Homo sapiens: one gene and its partners. The protein of the gene in region 1 purifies or fractionates together with the protein of each later gene. This does not show direct contact. Each region holds a gene or a part of one and is shown on either strand. Other genes may lie near its edges.

Region 1 (7,022 bases):
CTCCCTTCCTTCACTTTCTGTTCTTCCGGTATGCTCAGTGGCATTTTTCCCTCTCTTTTGGCAGTTTCAGGGACGAAGTCCCTCCCACCTGATTTTTGTTTTGTTTTGTTTTGTTTTTCCTATATTGAATTTTTAGTTCCGGACGCATTTTGCTTTCTTCCTCTTAATGTTCAAAGTATATTTCTCACCCTTCCACGGCCTCGCTCTTCATTCTGGATTTTGCTCTCCTTCTTTGCCTCTCCAGCTTTCTCATTACAGTCCCTCCCAGCTCGATTGTCCTTACCTTCCCCGGTTCTTGGAAAAATTTCCTTCCATTTTCTGTTCAGTATCAGCCTTCGCATCCTTCTACTACTCACCCCGCCTTCACCCTCCACCCCACCTCCCTCCCTCCCCTCCCTTCCTCTCTCGCGACGGTCAAGTTCGGGCTCTGGGGACCAGTTGCGCGCCCAAGTTTCTGATGCTCAGTTCTGAAGTGCTCCCAGCCCTCCACCCGCCTCTCCAAATCCCATCAATGGCCTCCTCCCCCCATCCGTCGAGCTTCCTCCTGCTGCGTAGTCCAGCGTCTACGCCCTCGCCTTTCCCTGGCTCCTCAGTCGGCCTGGACACCGATACTAGGCTCTTCTGTACAGCCCTCCAGCAATACCTTCCGGGGCCCCGCTTGCTGCCTCCTGGGGCTCAGCTTCCCTGCTGGGGGCAGGCATGTCAGAGCGCGGATGCAGCCCAGGGTCCTCCCGCGCGCCTGCACCAGGCTGCAGCGAGCGCGCAAGCCTGCTGGGTGCTGGAGCTCGGGCCGCCCCGGGAGAAGGGGTGGGGCTGGCTTGTGCTAGGGGCTGAGGCTGGGGGCTGTTTCTGGGCCCTGCCACCCTGTTTCCCCCAGCCCTGGTCTGACAGGGAAGGCGAGGGGGCGCTGGTGCCCCTGCAGGTGGGCAGGGAAACCGCCCTCTTCAGGACGCGCTTGTATTTCTGCATCCTGTGTCCTGAGCCTGGCGCGGGAACCGCCACTCAAACCCTCAGTGCAGCCGAGATGGAGGGAAAACAAAAGTGAATTTGAGATTCCCACTTTACCTCCAATCACTTAATCACAATTTGTTCTGGCACAAATGTCTTTCACTTGTTACATGGTCATAAATAATAAACAGTGCGGGACATCTGCATTCGTTGTGATGATCAAGAATAAGAATTCATAATAAAAACAACTACTACGTGTATGTTTTAGGCAGGGCTCTGAGGATTAGTTCACACTGTTCAGTTTAATCCTTATGCAAGTGGGTGTAATTTCTCCCCTTTCGCCCAGGAAACAGAAGCTCTGAAAGGTTAGGTGGCTTGTCTGAGGCCACACAGGGAATAGCTGCCATTGGAGGTCAAATCAGCACGATTCACCGCCAGAGCCTGTGTCCTCAGGAGGCGAAAATGCCTCTCGGTGCACCGAGTGACCATGCCAAATAGCTTCTTTGAGGAAGTGTGAGCCCCTTCATATAATTTTTGAAAACTTTCATTATGTCAATACTTGGTCCAATCTCAACTGCACACCCATTCTGAGAGGTGGCCATGGCAGAACTAGTGAGTGGCACGTGGTTGAGGGGGAAAGGCAGGGCTCGGGGCTGGCCACCTGAGTCTCTGTCACTTAAGGTTAGTGACATAACCTTGGGCAACTGACTTTTCTGCTCTCATTCCCCATTTATAGATATGGTGGTTGGGGGCGGGGAGAGGTGGGGTGTAAATATAATAAAAATAACTTCGAATAAGTCTTTTGTAAGCTGTAAAGTTCTTCACAAATATTGGGAATTACTGATGTCCCCCCTTAATAGACTGTAAACCCACAAGCCAGGGATGTTTGATGAATAAAGTTTTGCTGTTCACACAGCTAATAATCCACATAGCCAAGGCAACAACTCTTTTTTTTCTCTTGCTATTGTTTTGTTAACCATGTGGTACATGGCTAGAATATACTACCAATGCTATGTGTCTTATTTTACTCTGTGCGTATAATCATGAAATAGATACAGTACCGTTTGTAACAAGCTTTCACATAGTTGTCTCTCTTAATCAGTGAATATATGGAGTTTTTCATTGGGGGTTATGTATAATAAGTAAACTTATGTCTTTATAGGGCTTATTGTTAAAATACCGTAGTTTAAAACTGAGAATCACATATTAGGTTCTGGCTGAAATTAAACTCAATATTTGTTTTCTCCATTTTCTTCCTTAGAATTTGTGTATTATCAACCAATGCGTGGTTGATCTGTGCGTCAAATACCCCAAGAAACTGCAGCACTGAAACCAATTTTGACCCCAAGTGCTAATACATCTGAGACCCATTTCAGCTTTATTGTTGAAATGAAGAAACTATAAATATCCCTTCCTAGATGCAGAATGATTAAAATGATATTAAACTTAACATCCAATAGTTCTATATAATACGTTTATTCAACTTTCTTTGGTTTTTGACAATAGCTGCAAAGATTAAAGTGATAGATCTTGGTCATAGCCATATTCTAGATTATTCCAGTCAGACTCTTTAATACAATCTTTTGATTTTAAGAATAAAAATATGCTTTTATTTTGGATGAGAGTTGTGACGTTTTCCCTTGTAGGTCTTAAATCTCCAGGGACACTAATGAAATGTGTATGAAAACAAGATAGAAATCAGGGCCAGTTATCTGTGACAATCCACCCCTAAATGAACAAATAAATAAATAAATTGCTGGATAAATGAGCAAAAAGGAAAAACATAATCTCATTTTCTCAAATCGGTTAAAACAAGTGACATGATGAGAAAAAAATGAGACACCCGCAGACCCTGAGCTCTGCCACATTTGCCTAAGCTTGAAAAATCACCTCTTTCATAAAGCAAGAGCAGGCAGACTCCGCGTGCATACCAAGTATCTGGGAAATGTGGAAAATGACAAATCTTTCACTCAGAGCCTTGAATGGAAGGAGAGTGAAAGCTTTACAGCTGCTTCCTCACCTGCTTAGGAATGGCTCCCCCCAATCCCCTCCCTCTGTTCCCCAGCCTCTTACGGGCACTTTGGCTGTTCCTTGCATGGTAATATTGATGGTATTCAGACAGCAAACAGCCAATTTCAGTCTCTCAAGAAATAATCCACTACATTGACAGGTGAGTGGAATTTGACGTGATGTTCCCCTCGTTCAGATTGCCTCACCTGGATGGCACCAGCCAGCCAGGGTCCTTTAGGGGAAATGGTTAGAGACTTGGGCCAATTTCTGCTGTCATAACATGAAATCGAGACCACGTTTTTGTGAGGCCGTGAATTTGTGATCTGTCTTCTCAATGCAGTGGGTTTGTACACAAACAGAATGAGAATATGTTAACTAGAAAACTGACTCATTTTAATGTATTCGCCTGCAGTCTCTAACTACTTCCTATTTTTCATATTTATAGTATTAGGAATGCACCATTTATTTTCAGTTACTCACTAGTTAAGGAAGATTAAAACAGTCAATCAAATGAAAGTGAATTTTAAAATTACACTAATGAGTAAAATGTGCTGTAGATTAACAGATTTGTAATTTCAATAATTTAATATTTGGCTGGATCAAGTTTTTATTTGGGGAATGATGTAGGAAATTACCCTAAAAACTTGAAGAATACTTGAGCTTCTTTTTTATTTTTCATTATAAAGCTATAGACAGGACATTTAGTTGTAAAAAGACACACTAAAAAATGAAAACTCAAAAGTGGTGTTCAATTGTTTCAGGTAATTATAAAATAGACACCTCAACTCTTTATAATCACCAGGTTTTTTTGTGTAACAGGTAAAAAAAGATTGAACGGTTTTTGCTAATCATAATTTTCTGTTTTAGGATGAGTTTTTCCCCTTATGGATATATGAATTAGGACAGCAATTTTGATAGTTACTTAATTTTGAATGTGTGTGTGTGGGGGGTGGTGGGGGGGTGGGTGTCCTTGAAACTTAGTAAAATATAAATCATCTCAAAATTATTTAGCAAGAGAAGATCCTTGGGATTCTTCAGTAATTTTAAATTATATAGATAAATTACATGAGACAAGAAGTTTTAAGTGCCTAATGAATCATTTATTCCTGAGTCACTGCTATTTTATCGACAGGGGTGTACGGAAATGATATATAAAAAGATTACTCTGAATAGAGTTGTCTGTGTAATTTATACTTGACCTGATTTAAAGCTATATTAAGCAAACTATGTGTGTTAGATATATTCATTTTTGCCTTGATTATTACATACTGAACATCACCTTCCATTTTAAAGTAGGATATTTTTGTTAAAATATTAAAAAGCATTTTTGTATGCCTTATACTTATTTTTACCTTACTATTCAATATTACTTTATTGAAAGCTGCTCAGAGAATATGCAGTAGAATACCAGAGTACATTACAATAAAGGGTTGTTTTATAACTGTAATATAAAAGAAATAGTGGGTACAACTATGGTCGCATATTGGCTCTTTAAGAATGCGTACCAGTGCTAGGCTGCTAAATATAGCGAATTGGCCTAAGGATTGGAGCAGACAGGTTGTTATTCGGTGCAAGCTGGTGCTTAGTGATAATCCATCGATCATCTGATTGATCCTATTGACCTCATCGCAGAGTCAGGGTGCAGCTATTGATATTTGATCAGACCCTATAATATCAAAGCCAAATACAGATGCAAATAAATATTTCCTGCTGATCTTATGAACTTATAAGAAAATTATTACAATGCTATAAAAACTCTTACTTACGTAAGCTCAAACCTATGGTTTCAACTCCTAGTTAGGGAAAATAGATGTTATACCACACTGCAAACAAAAATATTTAGAAATGGCAAAAATGAAGTTTAGCCTTTAATTGTTAATTTCTTAAAGTTTACTTAAGAAGACAATTTGAACTCTTTTAAACATTCTTTCAATTTTAAACTTTCTGCGAAAGTATCAAAGCTTAACTGGATAAATCGGCATGCCATTTTTGATAACAATTTAGTAACATCTCCCAAGATGTAAAATGTGCAAATCCTGACACTTCCATTTCCAGGTGCTTATACTAAGAAAATTATTAGACAAATGTGAAAAGATGTATGTTAAGCTATAGTTATTGCAACAATGGTTTTAATGGCAAAAAATTGAAGAGGAGTTTCATCTCCGTCAAAAGGGGATTGGTAAAATAAATCATAGCACATCCACACAATGGGATTTGATGTAGACATTAAAAGGGATGAGAATATGTCTATCTACCCACGAGGAAAAATGCCCATGTTACATTGCTGAGTGGAGAAAACAAGGAACAGAATACTCTGCTTCAAAATAATTTTGGAGAAAAGAATCATATTTGCACATACATAAAAATGTCAAAAAGGATATAAACATCCTTTCTACAGTGGTAGTTAAATCTGGTGAGAGGACTAGAATGACTTGAACTTTTAACTTCCTATAATTTTTATTTTTTGGATTCATTTTTGGAATGAACATATATTGCTTTTTATCAAAAAGCTTAAAATATTAGTGAGAGAGTTTCAATGGTAAAATTAGAAAGATACCAAACCACGTTTCCAGTTTAAGAAAAAAGAAGGGAGAATAAGTAGGAAAATATCATGAGGCCCTTTTCCTTTTAAGGGTCTTAATCCAGTAAAATGTCTAGGCCAGCATTTCAGAATTATACTTCATGAAACACTGTCTTCTGAAGATACTCCTTGGACAAAAGTGTCCACTGTTTGTTATGTTCTCCTCCTGGAGATTTGCAGTGCTTGTAAGTATATGAAAGTTCTGGAAAGATTTGCGTGTAAGAAATCTGATTTTGTTTAACTAAAATTTTCCAGACACTTTTTTTTTCGACAGCATCTACCATACCTATTCAGATTACATGCATTGAGAAGCATGGGCCAAGATAATTCTGGAATCCTCTGTTCATCCTTTTATCTCTCACTTCTACTGAGTTGACACATACTAGGTTCTCAGAAAATACTTGTTTAATTACTAAGGAAACGAGGAATGAAGATTTTGGTGGAATCTTAAACTGTTCCTTAGTTGTTACTACTTGTGTGTGAGTGTGTGTGTACATATGGATGTATGTGCATTTTTGTGTGTGTGTTTATAATTTCGAGATTTCTCAAATGGAGAGTGTCATAAACATTATTTTGTCAGTATAACATACATGTATTATGTGTGTATCTTTATGTAGATATTTGACTCTATTCAATTTTGACAGCTACTCCATTCAAAATAATTCAAAGACTATACTTACAAATGTAGTGAAAAATTAAATCCCTAAGGTTTTCAGTCACAGGTTTGGGGATTTTTCTCCTCTATAAGTTTAGAAAAGACTATAGGAGTTGTCTTGAGGGACTGAAGAGGCTTCACTTGGCAAATAGGGAAAGGACTTTTACTTTCCAAATCTTTTGATATCAAGAGAAAAAGTCACTTTGCCTTTGTAGCAGAGAGAAAATAACACCAGACAAGCACTTTTTCCTTTCTTTGGGAATAAAGAGAAGATGAATTTTGTTTAAAATTTGTATAACCTAATTGAATTCCCCAAAGATAATACCCTCAAAGCACTTAGGGAACTCTGTTGGCCCATTATTTCTTTCTCTTTTCCCAACTTCATATAATAAAGGTCCAAAAAAGAAAAGAAAAATGATATTATCACAGGGTTTCTCCAAGAAAATGGATAGGAATGCTGAGGGATCTGCCTATTCATTAAGCAGATCTTTCTTTAACGCAGGGAAGGAGTCAAACCAAGTTGTTCTCTGAGTCTGCAAGGGAGGAAGACCTCTCACATCCTTAGGTGTGGCATTGTTCTACTGATGTAATTACTGGCATTTACCTTTACTATGCAGTTACTAGACCTTCTTTTCTAGGTGTGCTTTCATATCACACAAGAATAAATCCAAGCTGAATCTGTGTACATTCAGAGGACTTTTCTTATTTTCCACTTTTGTGGATGAAGAATGGACCAATTGATTCACATACTTTCAAGTGAATACAGAATGTCAGCTCCTAGATTTAGATAAGCTAATACACAGGCAGGGGGTAAAGCACCTCAGTGTT
Region 2 (7,022 bases), on another chromosome or scaffold:
GACCATCCTGGCTAACACGGTGAAACCCCGTCTCTACTAAAAATACAAAAATTAGCCAGGCATGGTGGCGGGCGCCTGTAGTCCCAGCTACACGGGAGGCTGAGGCAGGAGAATGGCGTGAACCCGGGAGGCGGAGCTTGCAGTGAGTCGAGATCGCGCCACTGCACTCCAGCCTGGGCGACAGAGCAAAACTCCGTCTCAAAAAAAAAAAAAAAAAATATATATATATATATATAAAATCTTAAAAAAAATATATATATATATATAATAGATATAATTTTTTTTTTGAGACAGAGTCTCACTCTGTCACCCAGGCTGGAGTGCAGTGGCACGATCTGAGCTCACTGCAACCTCTGCCTCCTGGGTTCAAACGATTATTTTGTCTCAGCCTCCCTAGTAGCTGGGACTACAGGCACGTGCCATCAAGCCCAGCTAATTTTTGTATTTTTAGTAGAGACGGGGTTTCACTATGTTGGCCAGGGTGGTCTCAAACTCTTGGCCTCAAATGATCTGCCCGTCTCAGCCTCCCAATGTGCTAGGATTACAGGCATGAGCCACTGCACCCGGACTAATTTTTTTTTTTTTAAGTAGAGACAGGGTTGCGCTGTGTTGCCTGTGCTGGTCTCAACCTCTTGGGCTCAAACAATCCTCCCACCTCAGCCTCCCTAAGTGCTGGGATTACAGGTGTGAGCCACTATGCCTGGCCTCCAGCGCTCATTCTATGGAAGATGTCACCCAAACCAGTGAAACCAGTGGCTCCTAAAGATGGTGATCCTTTGAGGAATTTCTGTAAAAATATAGATTTCTAAGCCCTGTCTCTGGATATTCTTTTTCAACAAATCCAAGGACTAAGATTTATCTGTATTTTTACCAGGTGATTCTGGTGACCTGCCAGGTTGGAACCAGCTGATGGTATGTGTTTTTTTTTTTTTTCATGCAGACAGCATGGAGACTTTTATTTTACTTCTGGAGATGGGGGTCTCACTATGTTGCTCAGGCCGGAGTGCAATGGCTATTCACAGGCATGATCATAGGTCATTGCAGCTGGAAACTCCAGACCTCAGGCAATTCTCCTGTCTCGGCCTCCTGAATAGCTGGTGTGCACCACTGAGCCCAGCAGGCATGGAGATTTTGGACTGTTCCTGCACATGGAAGCGGGAAGCATTAAGAAAGCTGTCTAGGAACTCTGCACAGGTATTTCGCCTGCCAGGCCTGCTTCTGGTGATGAGGCAGGAGTGAGCCCTTAAGCTGGGTGTCCCACAAACGCTGGAAAGTGGAGGGTTCTGCTCTGAGGCACAAAAGCTGACAGCAGCAATTAATGCCCCCCTCCTGGACTACAAACTCCCTGAGGGCACATCTGCTTTCAGCTGGATGAGTGTCTGAACCCAGGACAAGTTGGCACTCACGGTAGACAGACACGAGGTTATACAGGGCCCAGGTTGCCCAGTGCTGGCTGACAGGAGAGATTCCCTGGGGAAGGAGGCGGAGAATTGGTTCAAATGACCTGCAGGAAAAGAAATCAAGGTCACTGTGGATGCTGAGGGTGGGGAGTGTGTCTTTTCTTGTCTGAGGTTTCCTCCCACTGGAGAATCCTAGTGACCAACCATGATAGGCTGGCAGGATGCCAGGGAGAAGGGACAGCTGGCCCTGCATCCCACTGGCAGGCTGCACAACAAGGTTCCCTTGGAGAGGATAAAGGCACAAGCACATGAGGGAGGCACAAGGGACCCAGATTAGGAGGAGCAGAAAGCTGGAGACCTCAGCAAGGAGCAGAGACCCAGCCTGTGGGGAAGAGGGGAGAGGCACCCTGGGAACAGAAGCACGTGTGACCTGGTTTTTTTTTTTTTTTTTTTTTTTTTTTTTTTTGTGAGACGGAGTTTCGCTCTGTTGCCCAGGCTGGGGTGCACTGGTGCAATCTCCACTCACTGCAACCTCTGCCTCCTGGGTTCAAGCGATTCTCCTGCCTCAGCCTCCTGAGTAACTGAGACTACAGGGGTGTGCCACCACACCCAGCTAATTTTTGCATTTTTTTTTCTTTTGAGACAGAGTCTTGCTCTGTCGCTCAGGCTGGAGTGCAGTGGCATGATCTCGGCTCACTGCAAGCTCCGCCTCCCTGGTTCACGCCATTCTCCTGCCTCAGCCTCCCGAGTAGCTGGGACTACAGGCGCCTACCACCAAACCCGGCTAATTTTTTTGTATTTTTTAGTAGAGACGGGGTTTCACCGTGTTAGCCAGGATGGTCTCGATCTCCTGACCTCGTGATCCACCCACCTCAGCCTCCCAGAGTGCTGGGATTATAGGCGTGAGCCACCGCGCCCGGCCTAAATTTTGTATTTTTGGTAGAGACAGGGTTTCACTATGTTGGCCAGGTTGGTTTCGAACTCCTGACCTCAAGTGATCCACCTGCCTTGGCCTCCCAAAGTGCTGGGATTATAGGCGTGAACCACCATGTCCAGCCCTTTTTTCTTTGTTTTTTTTTTTTTTGAGACGGAGTCTCACTCTGTCGCCCAGGCTGGAGTTCAGTGGTGCAATCTCGGCTCACTGCAACCTCTGCCTCCTGGGTTCACATGATTCTCCTGCCTCAGCCTCCCGAGTAGCTGGGACTACAGGTGCATGCCACCATGCCCAGCTAATTTTTGGTTAGAGCATCATTTTGCTGTTGGCCAGGCTGGTCTTGAACTCCTGACCACCCGCCTTGGCCTCCCAAAGTGCTAGGATTACAGGCGTGAGCCACCATGCCTGGCCTTTTTTTTTTTTTTTTTGGAGAAAGGGTCTCGCTCTGCTGCCCAGGCTGGAGTGCAGTGGCATGATCACAGCTCACTGCAGCCTTGACCTTCCAGGCCATGCAAGTGTTCCTCCCACCTCAGCCTCCTGAGGAGCTGGGACTATAGGTGTGAGCCACCATGCCTGGCTAATTAAAAAAAAATTTTTTTTGGCCAGGTGCAATGGCTCACACCTGTAATCCTAGCACTTTGGGAGGCTGAGGGGGGTGGATTGCCTGAGCTCAGGAGTTTGAGACCAACCTGGGCAACACAGTGAAACCCCGTCTCCACTAAAGTACAAAAAATTAGTTGAGCATGGTAACGTGCACCTGTAATCCCAGCTACTCGGGAGGCTGAGACAGGAGAATCGCTTGAACCTGGGAGACGGGGGTTGCAGTGAGCCAAGATCACACCATTGCACTCCAGCCTGGGTGACAGTGCGAGACTCCGTCTCAAAAAAAAAATTTTTTTTTTTGTAGAGGTGAGGGCTCACTATATTGCCCAGGCTGGTTTCAAACTCCTGAGCTCAAGTGATCTTCCTGCCTTGGCCTCCCAAAGTGGCTGGGATTCTAGGTGTGAGCCACCGCATCCGGCCTGTGACTGCTCTTCTGACGAGGGCCTTCTGTGGGCCAGCCTGGAGTCATGGTCCAAAAGCCTGAAACACGTGTGTGCAAAACTCCTGGGCCAGCGATTCCGCTTCCTTTCTCCCCAAGAACTATAGTACTTGGCACACTGGCAACGCTACCAATGTCAGCCTGTTCCTCCCAGTATGGGTTTTCAACTGAAATGTCCATCTGTACAGGATGGCACAAAGAAAGTGACTCCGTCCTAAAATGACGAGGGAGATCCATGCCTGGTGATTGGCCAGTCAGTCACAAAACAGTAGGAATTGATGCCAGCTTGACTTAAAGTAATGAAATCTGTGCATAGAAACACTGCTGGAAGGAGACACACCAAAATGTCAACAGGAGTTCTCTTTCAGGGAGTGAGATTATGAACGATTCTTGTTTTCTTCTTCTTCTTTTTTTTTTGAGATGGAGTATCACTCTGTTGCCCAGGCTGGAGTGCAGTGGCGAGTTCTTGGCTCACTGCAACCTCTGCCTTCCAGGTTCAAGTGATTCTCCTGCCTCAGCCTCCCAAGTAGCTGGGATTACAGGTGCCCACCACCATGCCTGGCTAATTTTTGTATTTTTAGCAGAGATGGGGTTTCACTGTGTTGGCCAGGCTGGTTTCGAACTCCTGACCTCAGGTGATCCGCCTGCCTCAGCCTCCCAAAGTGCTGGGATTACAGGTGTGAGCCACTGTGCCCGGCCCTGTTTTGTTTTCTTGTTTTTTTTATTCATTTTTATTTTTATTTTTATTTATTTATTTTTGAGACGGAGTCTCGCTCTGTCGCCCAGGCTGGAGTGCAGTGGCGCGATCTTGGCTAACTGCAAGCTCCGCCTCCCAGGTTCACGCCATTCTCCTGCCTCAGCCTCCCGAGTAGCTGGGACTACAGGCGCATGCCACCACGCCCGGCTAATTTTTTGTATTTTTAGTAGAGGTGGGGTTTCACTGCGTTAGCCAAGATGGTCTCGATTTCCTGACCTCATGATCTGCCCGCCTCTGCCTCCCAAAGTGCTGGGATTACAGGTGTGAGCCACTGTGCCCGGCCCTGTTTTGTTTTCTTGTTTTTTTAATTTATTTTTATTTTTATTTTTATTTATTTATTTTTGAGACGGAGTCTCGCTCTGTCGCCCAGGCTGGAGTGCAGTGGCGCGATCTCGGCTAACTGCAAGCTCCGCCTCCCAGGTTCACACCATTCTCCTGCCTCAGCCTCCCGAGTAGCTGGGACTACAGGCGCATGCCACCACGCCCGGCTAATTTTTTGTATTTTTAGTAGAGGTGGGGTTTCACTGCGTTAGCCAAGATGGTCTCGATTTCCTGACCTCATGATCCGCCCGCCTCTGCCTCCCAAAGTGCTGGGATTACGGGTGTGAGCCACCGCGCCTGACCTTCTTCTTTTTTTTAAAGAAATGGTCTCATTCTGTCCCCTAGGCTGGAGTGCAGTAGCATGATGTTGGCTCACTACAGCCTCGACCTCCTGGGCTCAAGTGACCCTCCTGCCTCAGCCTCCCCAGTAGGTGGGACTACAGGTGTGCACCATCACACCCAGCTCATTTTTTTTTTTTTTTTTTTTTGAGATGGAGTCTTGGTCTGTTGCCCAGGCTGGAATGCAGTGGCGCCATCTCGGTTCACTGCAACCTCTGCCTCCTGGGTTCAAGCGATTCTCCTGCCTCAGCCTCCTGAGTAGCTGGGATTACAGGTATGTGCCACCACGCCAGGTTAATTTTTGTATTTTTAGTAGGGACGGGGTTTCACCATGTTGGGCAGGCTGGTCTTGAACTCCTGACCTCGTGATCTGCCCGCCTCAGCCTCCTAAAGTGCTATGATTACAGGCGTGAACCACTGCACCTGGCCTGATTTTTAAAATTTTTCGTAAAGAGGAAGTCTCACTATGTTGCCCAAGCTGGTCTTGAAATCTTGGGCTCAGCTGGACGCAGTGGCTCATGCCTGTAATCCCAGCACTTTGGGAGGCCGACGTGGGCGGATCACGAGGTCAGGAGATCGAAACTATCCTGGCTAACACGGTGAAAACTCGTCTCTACTAAAAATACAAAAAAATTAACCGGGCGTGGTGGCGGGTGCCTGTAATCCCAGCTACTCTGAGGCTGAGGCAGGAAAATGGCGTGAACCCAGGAGGCAGAGCTTGCAGTCAGCTGAGATTGCACCACTGCACTCCAGCCTGGGCGACAGAGCAAGACTCTGTCTCAAAAAAAAAAAAAAAAGAAAAGAAAGGAAATCTTGGGCTCAAGTGATCCTCCTGTCTCAGCTTCCCAAAGTGCTGGGATTATGGGCAAGAGCTACTGTGCCCGGCCCACCTGTATGGTTTTCTGTTGTGTGTCTATTTTCTCCCCACCCCTCCCCACAAATCAGTAGGTATTAGTGGTTTGCAAAGAGCAGGCTTTGGGTACATGCAGATGTTGGCATGTATGACAAATGCTCCAGGCTGCACGGATGAGATCGTGCCCTTATGTATGCTCTGTGCTGTGTGCGGCTACGTATCAATGAGTGAAAGCAGAACCCTACAGAAGACCAGAAGGAAGGTGGGAGCTCTGAGCAGACCTTAATGGTATGAGCATCCTGCCCAGCACTTACCCCATATTCCACACCGCATCCCCGCTCCCTGCCCTGCCCACACCTGTAATTGATGTTTCTCCGAGAGTTTATGTCCCAGCTCTGGATGGCAGCCCACATGCGTTCCTCCACCTCCTCACGCTGGGGCTCACAGACGCCCCAGGCCTCGGGTCCATCAAACATGATGTGGGAGAGGACGCCGCAGGCATTGTAGGAAACCTCGATCCCATCGGCCTTGCTCTCCAACAGGTTGCTGCCAGGAGAAAGACAGAAAAATGGAGTCCCACTCCCCCAGTTTCTCTTCAGATACCAGCGGCAGGACCCCAACTTAAAACCAGAAGCAAGAGGTGCTACTTATTTCTTTATCCCATATCGTCTATATACCCAGACTACTTCTAAAGGGATTTGAGGTCATTTAAGATATAATTACAGGCTGGGCGCAGTGGCTCACGCCTGTAATCCCAGCACTTTGGGAGGTCAAGGCAGGTGGATCACGAGGTCCGGAGATCGAGACCATCCTGGCTAACATGGTGAAACCCCATCTCTACTAAAAATACAAAAAAATTAGCTGGGCGTGGTGGCAGGCGCCTGTAGTCTCAGCTACTCGGGAGGCTGAGGCAGGAGAATGGCGTGAACCCGGGAGGCAGAGCTTGCAGTGAGCCTAGATTGTGCCACTGCACTTCAGCCTGGGTGACAGAGCAAGACTCCATCTCAAAAAAAAAAAAAAAGATATAATTACAAAAGGACCACTTACGAAGGATTGAATGAATAAGAAACCACATTATCGAGGGAAAATGACATTTATAGCAAACCTAGGCTAAGAGCAGTTGTGCAACTGAGCAAACGCTAGAGCTCTGAGCATTGTGGCAGCTAAGGCAAAAAGGGAAAGGATTAAAAATACCAACCTGAAGACGCTGATGAACTGGGAAGTCATTAGTTGAGGCCTCAGCTCCTTCACTTCTGCCACATTCCCCAAAAGTCCTAGCATATTCCTATGCAGTTCCTGCTTCTCTGGGAATTCCTGGGAAAAGGAGAGCCAATGGGCCGCATCAATTAGTACTTAATGACTTAGTATCTGGTATT
Region 3 (7,713 bases), on another chromosome or scaffold:
TTTGCAGCAGTGGGCTAATTACGACCAAGCCCCCTCACCAAATTAACCCCTCCCTTCCCTCTCTCTTTTTTTTCTCTAAAAGGCCAATTGAAGAATAATGTGTTTTTATAGATAATGGATTTTTTTTCCAGGAGCGAGAGAAAGGGGGGTGCAGAATAGAAATTCTGCAAACCGGTGACTTCCAACCTCACCTCCGTCTCCCCCCACATCCCCGTTTGCTGTAGCATCTCATCTACCGTTCTCCCACCATTCTCTCATCCCCTACCACCCAAAAGAAAAGACCTTCCTACCATGCACATCGACAAACACACCAACCGCCACCCAATCTCAGTAGCCGATCTCAAAACCCCAAGCATCAGTCCACCTCAATACATCCTTTCCCTTATATAAGCAGCAAATCATCAACATAGTCAGGAGAAACGCAGCACTAAAATGAAATCAACAAAAACGGAGGCCAGAACGCCGTCAAAACCCCAATAATTAATAATAGGGAACTACCAGAGAAGCAAAGACGTAGCTGTCTCTCAAAATCTAGAATCCCTTTAATTTCTGCCCCCTCCTCTTCTCAAGAAGCAATTTTTTTTAAATTATTATTTCACTAGAAAGGGCCAGAAAGCTCCAGAAAAGGGCATTCGCACAGTCCGGTTGTTTTTAAAAAATAAACCCAGCCCTGTTGCTCACTTTAATAGCGAACTTCCAGTGTCCAGCCTTTTCCCCCCCTTCCAGAAGGAAGACTGACTCGCAGGATGAACCTCAGGCTGCAGAAAATGGGCCAAGAGCCCTTACTCCACTCCCCAACAACAACAAAAAATCAAACAATAGGAATATCTGCACAACCAGCACCCGTCTGAAATATCGTTTGCCCCATATGACTTAGGCAGATTAAGCCCGAAGATTAAAAAATAAATACCAGCCTTGCCTCCTCTCACTCCCCTCCATCCTTCCGCCACATACCCAGTAGCCCTTAGGTAAACTTGCCCATCATAACCAGCGGGACCATTTTAACTTGAAAGGCGATGCAGAAGCCCTTGAACGATGAAGGAAGGCTCTACCCAGAACGGCAAATTAATAAAGAGCCAGTTCTCCAGCCTCCCCAGACTAACCTCCAGGTGCCCCCAGATAGACTATCCTGGGTACCAAGTCACGCAGCGTGCTGGGAGTTCAAATTTCCACTGGAACCTTCATCACAAAGGCAAACGGTCATCTGACCCCCAAAATTACACCATCCTCCAGGTGTGACAAGGAGTGCCCCCTCTCCCTCCCAGGGCCATCCACAGGACCCAGCGGAGAGGAAGAAAGAAGAATGTTGGGGTGGCTTGTAGTGGTAAAAGAAAAACTATCTCCCCAAAGCGGGAACCGAAGGAAGCGGGGAGAAGACAGCTCTTGTCCTACCAGCTCTTTTATTTGCCCTGACTCTATCTTGCTCCATCCTAAGCTAGCTCTCAATGATCTCTGACCTTTGCATTAAAAAAAAAAGTATTAACAATAAAGATCAGAGAAGAGCAATCCTACTTTACCTAAACCCCAATAATGGTTAGCAAAAATATGATGTTCTCATTGCATGATGATATTTCTACATCCAAATTAAAAGAGGCAGACATTTAATGGAGGAAGGGAAAATTTTATTTTTTTTTAACAAGTAATCACAGGGTAAGTCACCTGCAAAGCAGCCGAGCCCTTAGGTTGGTATTACATCACTGGCCTAAGAAGGGATGGGGGGTGGGGGGACACATTTTTTTCCTTGTCATCAGGATGATGTTTCTAAAGCAGTTAAGTTTTGTGGTTAAAAAAGAGAGAGGGAAAGAGCTGAAACTCTGGGTACAGCACAATGCCTGGAAAAAACAATACATCGAACCAGGCTTTAAGGTCACTGAGAGCTTGCAAAACCCACAGTGCTTACACAGAGTGGAAGTTTTCAGGCAAGCCTGCTACTAAATCATTAATATAAACAAATGGAAGGCAGTGGAGGAAGATTCCCTTGTAACCGATCCAAACAGGAGCACACACCCGCGCACACACACACACACACACTCACACACACACTCCCTTTTCACCTTCTCCAAGTATGCCCACCTTCACAAGACAGGAGTCCAACCTGAATTTTTAGACTCTAGGACCACCTCCTCACACCCCCTCAAAAAAAAAAAAAAAAAGCACACACACACTCACATACACGTCAATTCCTCAACAGCTAGGGAAATCCCTGTCTCAATTCAATTTTGTTTTCTTGTGATCCTCAGAGTGTCCTTTCTGTTTCTCATTTTAACCAGCCCAAATAAATAAATGAATAAATGAGGGGGGAAGTGACTACAAAATGTCAAAAAAAAAGTATCTGCCCAAAATGAAGTGATGAGCACACATCATTTCAGACTAACAATTCAAGCAAATAGGAGAAAGACTCAAAAAAAAAAAAAAAAAAAGAAGAAGAAGATAAAAATCTAAAACATTCTCTGACTTTTCCAACATCTGGAGGAAAAGGACCCAACTTCCAGGAGAAACTGAAGGAAAAGAAAGGCAGTTGAAAAGCCATTTCCACAGTCAGCCAAGGCTCATGGATACAGTATTCAAAAAAGAAAATCTAGGTTGGTTGCTCCCAACTGAAAACTTCTACCCTCTCAGGAGCAACCTCTTCCCAGAACGGACAAGAACCTTGAGTTGTTTCATGCCCTGACTGCCTTCCTTTCCCCGCAAACCTTACCTTTCCAGTTGAACAGAAGATTTGGGATCTGTCTGTATGTCTGTTTGATGTTTAATCAACTGAGTTTGCTGGGTATGTTTCCTCTTTGGGTAGGTTCAAATTCCAGAATCTTTCTCTCTCCTTTTCCTTTCTCTCTGGGAGGGAGTGGCAGGGTAGAAGGGAGGGGTTGTTGGAGGTGCGAAAAGCAGGTCCTTGGTGGCTGGAGATGCCGAGGCTGAGAGAGGGGAGGACAGGTTGCCTCTCCCTCTCTGTGAGTTGCATGCAAGAGGCGATGTGTAGGGCTGAGCGCTGAGCCTGAGACTGCTGGAGGAGCCCAGGAATTTCACGCACTCCAGAGCCGGCCCCTCCCTCTCCCACACAGACCCCAGCATTTAAAGAGACAGACAGGCCGCCTGGCTCAGGGCTTCACCTCCTCCCTGACTGTTTTGCAAACAGCTGAGAAGATATCATGAGGGAGGGGCAGTTTGCAGCCCCCACAACTAAGAGGCAGTGTCTGAGCTCAGTTCTCCCCTTACTCCAGCCTGAGAGGAGAGTTCTTCCCTAGAATCAGAGTAGGAATTAATATAAAGACAAAATTCTTATTTACAGCTTCAGTAACCAAACCACTTCCCCACTGCTGAGGATGTGTGTGTCTCCTTGCAGACTGAGGGACTCTAACCTACAAGTGTGCCTCAGTTTCCCTGAGTAGTTGCTCTTCCTTGCAAAATCAGGGCAATCTTTGAGCATCTAGTGGAAGTCAGGGCTGTAACTAGGACACAAATCTATTCCTTCAACAAGCACTTTGAATGCCTGCTTAGGATGAAGCATACTGCAAGGGGCTGGGGACATAGAAATGAAAGTGACAAATGGGGCTTCCTCTCTCAGAGCCCCTAGCAGCAAAGACAGACCCAGGCACAGCCCATCCTATCCTAAGGGGCTGCCAGCTAAGGGTCAGAGGCCCGAATCAAGTGTTTTGGTGACTCAGGAAGATGGCTCTCTTTTGTGGCTTGCACTCTGAGCTCTGAGCCTAGACTGCACCCCTAAACCCTTGAAAATCCCTTGCCAGCCTTGACAAACTAGTTCATGTCTGTGGAAACGTTTCCCCAGTCAAACCTAAACAAGAGATGACAGTCGGTGGCACCCAATACAAAGGTTTTGCTCAGCATCAGGCCCTGGCACCTTATGTGAAAATGCAGCCCCAAACTCCTTTCTTCTCCAGCTCCCTTTTTAAGGGCTGCACTGGCATGTCCTCCCTTGGACCAGCACCAATCCACTAATAGCTGTTGAGCACTTACCATATGCCACTACGTGGGTCATCTCATTCAGTCCAGTGAGGTTTGTGCTATTTGACAGTTGAGATCCATTCCACAGTCTTAAAAGTTGAAGCTTTAGAGAGGGTGCCCAAGGTTACACAGCTGGAAGCTGCTAAGAATGAATTTGAACTCAAGTCTATCCCACTCCAGAGCCTGCCTGTTAGCCACAGTACTCTATTGCCTCCAGCCAAGGATGGTAGTTCTTATATTTCTGCCCTTTACTGGATGTTCTTGCAGCATCCTAGCACTTTCCTGACCCAGCAAACTTTAATAGCACATGTACCCGGCATCATGCTCATGAGAAACAAAATGAATCTATCAAGGTCTGAACCCCAAGGACTCCACTAAGCATTGGAGGAGGACAGAAATGTGTTTCTATAAAGCAAAGGGAAAATAATCATGAGAGCAATGTAAAGGAAGCTCTATGGGATTGTCGATAAGCAAGTGATTAATTGTGATTTGGAGGTGGGGGATATCAAGGCAAGCTTGGTGGACTAAAGTGGCATCTGGGCTGGGACTAGACGGACATATGCACTTCCATCATTACTAGCCTACTTTTCAGTCTATTTTGCCTTTCAGATCACAATCTCATTTTCTTATGTGTCTTCGGGTCTCCAGCCTTCAACACCTCCACGGTATCCAGTAGTTTTAGGAACACAAACGAACATGCCTTCATGGATTAATTTTATATGACATCTGACCTCCCACCTATTTACTCTAGACCTGAACTGCCCTGGCCACCAGTTCCATATCCTCCTTACCTGGCCTTCCTAGAAGTCTCTGTACCAAATTTGTCCACAGAATGTGGAAGGGAAGTTCAGAAGGCACAGTGCATGGGATTGCTCTAGATGTCAGGAGCTCCTGAGGGAAGAACCATGTAAAGGAGCCACCATGATCCAGCAGGACATCGGGAATAGCCAGGGAAACTGTACGCTCATCTCGGGGGCAGCAGGAAGAGACCTGAAGGACCTAAGGGATGAGAGGGCGGAAGCCTCAAGGGAGAGCCTGAGGACTCAGTGCCCTGCAGATGTCAGCGCCTGTGGGATTCCTGTGGCAAACACCAGCCTAGGAAGGACATCCCCGTGAGAAGTGCGTCTGCAGAACAGCCTAGAGGTTAAGGGACACGCCTGGATTCCAATCCTTTCTGGGCCACCTAAATTCCTTGTGATTTGAATAACTTTCTTTACCCTCTCCAAGTCTTAGCATCCTCACCTATAAAATGGAGGTAACACCTGTACTTACTTCACAGAGTTGTTTTGAGAAACAAGTAATAAAATACCCGTAGGATGCCTGCCCCACAGAAGTACTCAACAGATGTTCGCTACCCCAGCCCACAGGTCTGCATTTGCCCCTGCATGGGATTATTAACTTTGGACTGCCCCCTATAGTTGGCATTCCTTTATTTCAAGTTATTATATCCCTTTTAATAATTTAGCTTATTATTTAGGGTATCACTGTAGTCACTATTATTTACTTCATTTTACCCCCTTGATGTCTAACCTACTTTAACTTATATATTTTGAATATATTTGTTATTATCATTTTATTCTGCTTTGTACTTTCTTAGGCTCCTTAAGTGTTATTTATCTTTCAATTACTCCAGTTGTATCCTTTTAGTTTGCCTTTTATCATGAAATCTGTGGGCTTATTTTGTCTCATTCCTCCATACCATTTTAGTTAACTACCATTCGGCTCTTTCTAGTGATCCAGCATTCCCCAGATAGCTCCAAATTTGTGAAGATGGTTATGTACAAAATAGCAGGGAAAGACAACATCAAAGAGAGTAAGATGGGTCTCCTTGCAGACGTGTAATGCAACCATAAGCAAAAAGCAATATCAGTTGTTTGCCCAAATGATGGTGCCATGTCAGCAATGGTACTAATTTTTATTTTTTAAGGGAGGACTCAATGGGTACAACTGAAACCCTCAGAGACCCTAGGCCTTCTCAGCTCTCATCTCCGTCCTGGGATAAGGAGGGCCATTATCAGAGGTCATTAAGTTAGAAGGTTCTCTCACAGGCCTATCTTCCTTCCTTTGATTAGATTGTGGGGCTCCATCTTCACTCAGTTCAGGGACAGAACAGACCAGGGACTGTTTCAGCTTTTCTCAAATGTGCCAGACCAGTGCTTTCAGCATGTAGCAAGAAAAAATTTCACTACCAATCAAAAGAATACATTGCCCATGGCATTCTGAAAAAAAAAAAGTTATTTCAGTGATGATAATAACAATAATAATAACAACTGCTACCACAAGTTACCCCCTGCCAACCCTCTACTTAGAAGCATTATGGTTAAGATCCCAAGGCTCTGCAAACAGGACATCTGGATTCAAATCCCAGCTCCACCATTTTTTGGCCATGAGACCTCAGCCAAATTTTGAACATCTCAAGCCTCCACTTTCTCATCTATAAAATGGGAAAAATGGTATCAAATGCTTCCTGTGAGAATTGTATCAAAAGCACCGACAATAGTAAATGGCACCTGGGAAGTCCACAATGGAAAGTATTGGTCATTATTAACAGAGTGGAATTTAAAATATTTAATATCTGAGATGGTCCAGTCAGCAACCAATCAGATTGGAAGGTGACCAAGAGCAACTGGTTTGGCCTGACCAAGGTATACCAGCTACCAGCCTTGATTATTAGGACGTTTACCACCCGCCAGGTACTAAGTTAGGCATTTTTAGGCATTTGGCGTGCACTAATGCATTATCTCATTTAATCCTCACAGCAACTTGGTTTTATTATGTTATGTATTGAAATACATGCAATTGCACATTTATAAATAAGACTATGCCTATAAAATCAGAGTTCTGCATAAAAAGACTTGGCATATCCATTCCTGCCACCCTAATGACTCTTAGGATGTGAATTTCAAGGGTTGCTTTTTCTGGGACATTTTTAGCCTCATTACATAGGTTCCTTCTTTTACTTACTCATTCTTTCAATAACATTTGGGGTAAAAAATTACGGTCCATGTCTCAGTTTATTCATCCATTAAATGAGTGTTTCTATCTAAGTTCCCACTGCTCGACCCCAACCAAACCTGAGAACATCAGTCTTCTCCAGCCAAGACCAAGTCACTAGAAATCAGGCATTAGAGAGTTCTTCTAATCCCTCAGCTAGCACTTCAATTGAGTCAAACCCTCCAGGCTCCCAACCTGCCCCATAAGCTTGGATTTTTAGTCATTAAAGTCCACACATGCCTTATTCCTAAGCAGATTTCAAATTCAGCCCCCAGTGCTATTGGCCCAAAGCATTTTGCCTAAGGCCCCTTCAAACGTTCCTCATGCTCTTCTCTCCTCTCCTCCCCCAAGAGCTGTGCTGCAATGCTGGCCTGCTGGAGTTTATTTGGCTTTCTGTCACCTATGTGATGATGATTCCAGTGTTATTAATAGGTGACAGCTTATTAATTAGTATTATTAGACATGGGCCATGCAGTGCAGACAATACCACAGAGGGGCCTGGCATCCTTCAAGGAGAAGACTTGTACAAAAAGACTTGTCCCTGGGGCCCAGTGAAAGGACACAGGCCCAGCAGTGAGTCAACAGCAGTGCTTCCCAAATTCTAAAAGCCAGGCACCTAATCCAGACAACTGTGTCTGGCACGGGAAGGAGAGAGAAGCGAATGTGAGACTTACAGGCATGTGAGAACACGAGCCCAAAGAGAAGCCTGAGCACTCAGGCCTTAAGGAGGTCACCGCCCATGAAATGTTTCTCACTACA

The links.
Region 2: the proteins of TAFA1 (region 1) and ZER1 purify together in Homo sapiens (affinity purification with mass spectrometry; 2 studies listed by BioGRID and IntAct, with this or other methods). This does not show direct contact.
Region 3: the proteins of TAFA1 (region 1) and NRXN3 purify together in Homo sapiens (affinity purification with mass spectrometry; 2 studies listed by BioGRID and IntAct, with this or other methods). This does not show direct contact.

Annotation. Positions count from the first base shown.
Region 1 is NC_000003.12:68,007,227-68,014,248, forward strand, and holds part of TAFA1 (chemokine-like protein TAFA-1 isoform 1 precursor), read left to right. Parts: intron 1-7,022.
Region 2 is NC_000009.12:128,733,928-128,740,949, forward strand, and holds part of ZER1 (protein zer-1 homolog), read right to left. Parts: intron 6,961-7,022; coding exon 6,845-6,960; intron 6,193-6,844; coding exon 6,004-6,192; intron 1,505-6,003; coding exon 1,407-1,504; intron 1-1,406. UniProt on the Homo sapiens protein: Serves as substrate adapter subunit in the E3 ubiquitin ligase complex ZYG11B-CUL2-Elongin BC. Acts to target substrates bearing N-terminal degrons for proteasomal degradation with the first four residues of substrates being the key recognition elements.
Region 3 is NC_000014.9:78,165,660-78,173,372, reverse strand, and holds the start of NRXN3 (neurexin 3), read right to left. Parts: upstream 3,001-7,713; 5' UTR 2,699-3,000; intron 1-2,698. UniProt on the Homo sapiens protein: Neuronal cell surface protein that may be involved in cell recognition and cell adhesion. May mediate intracellular signaling. Functions as part of a trans-synaptic complex by binding to cerebellins and postsynaptic GRID1.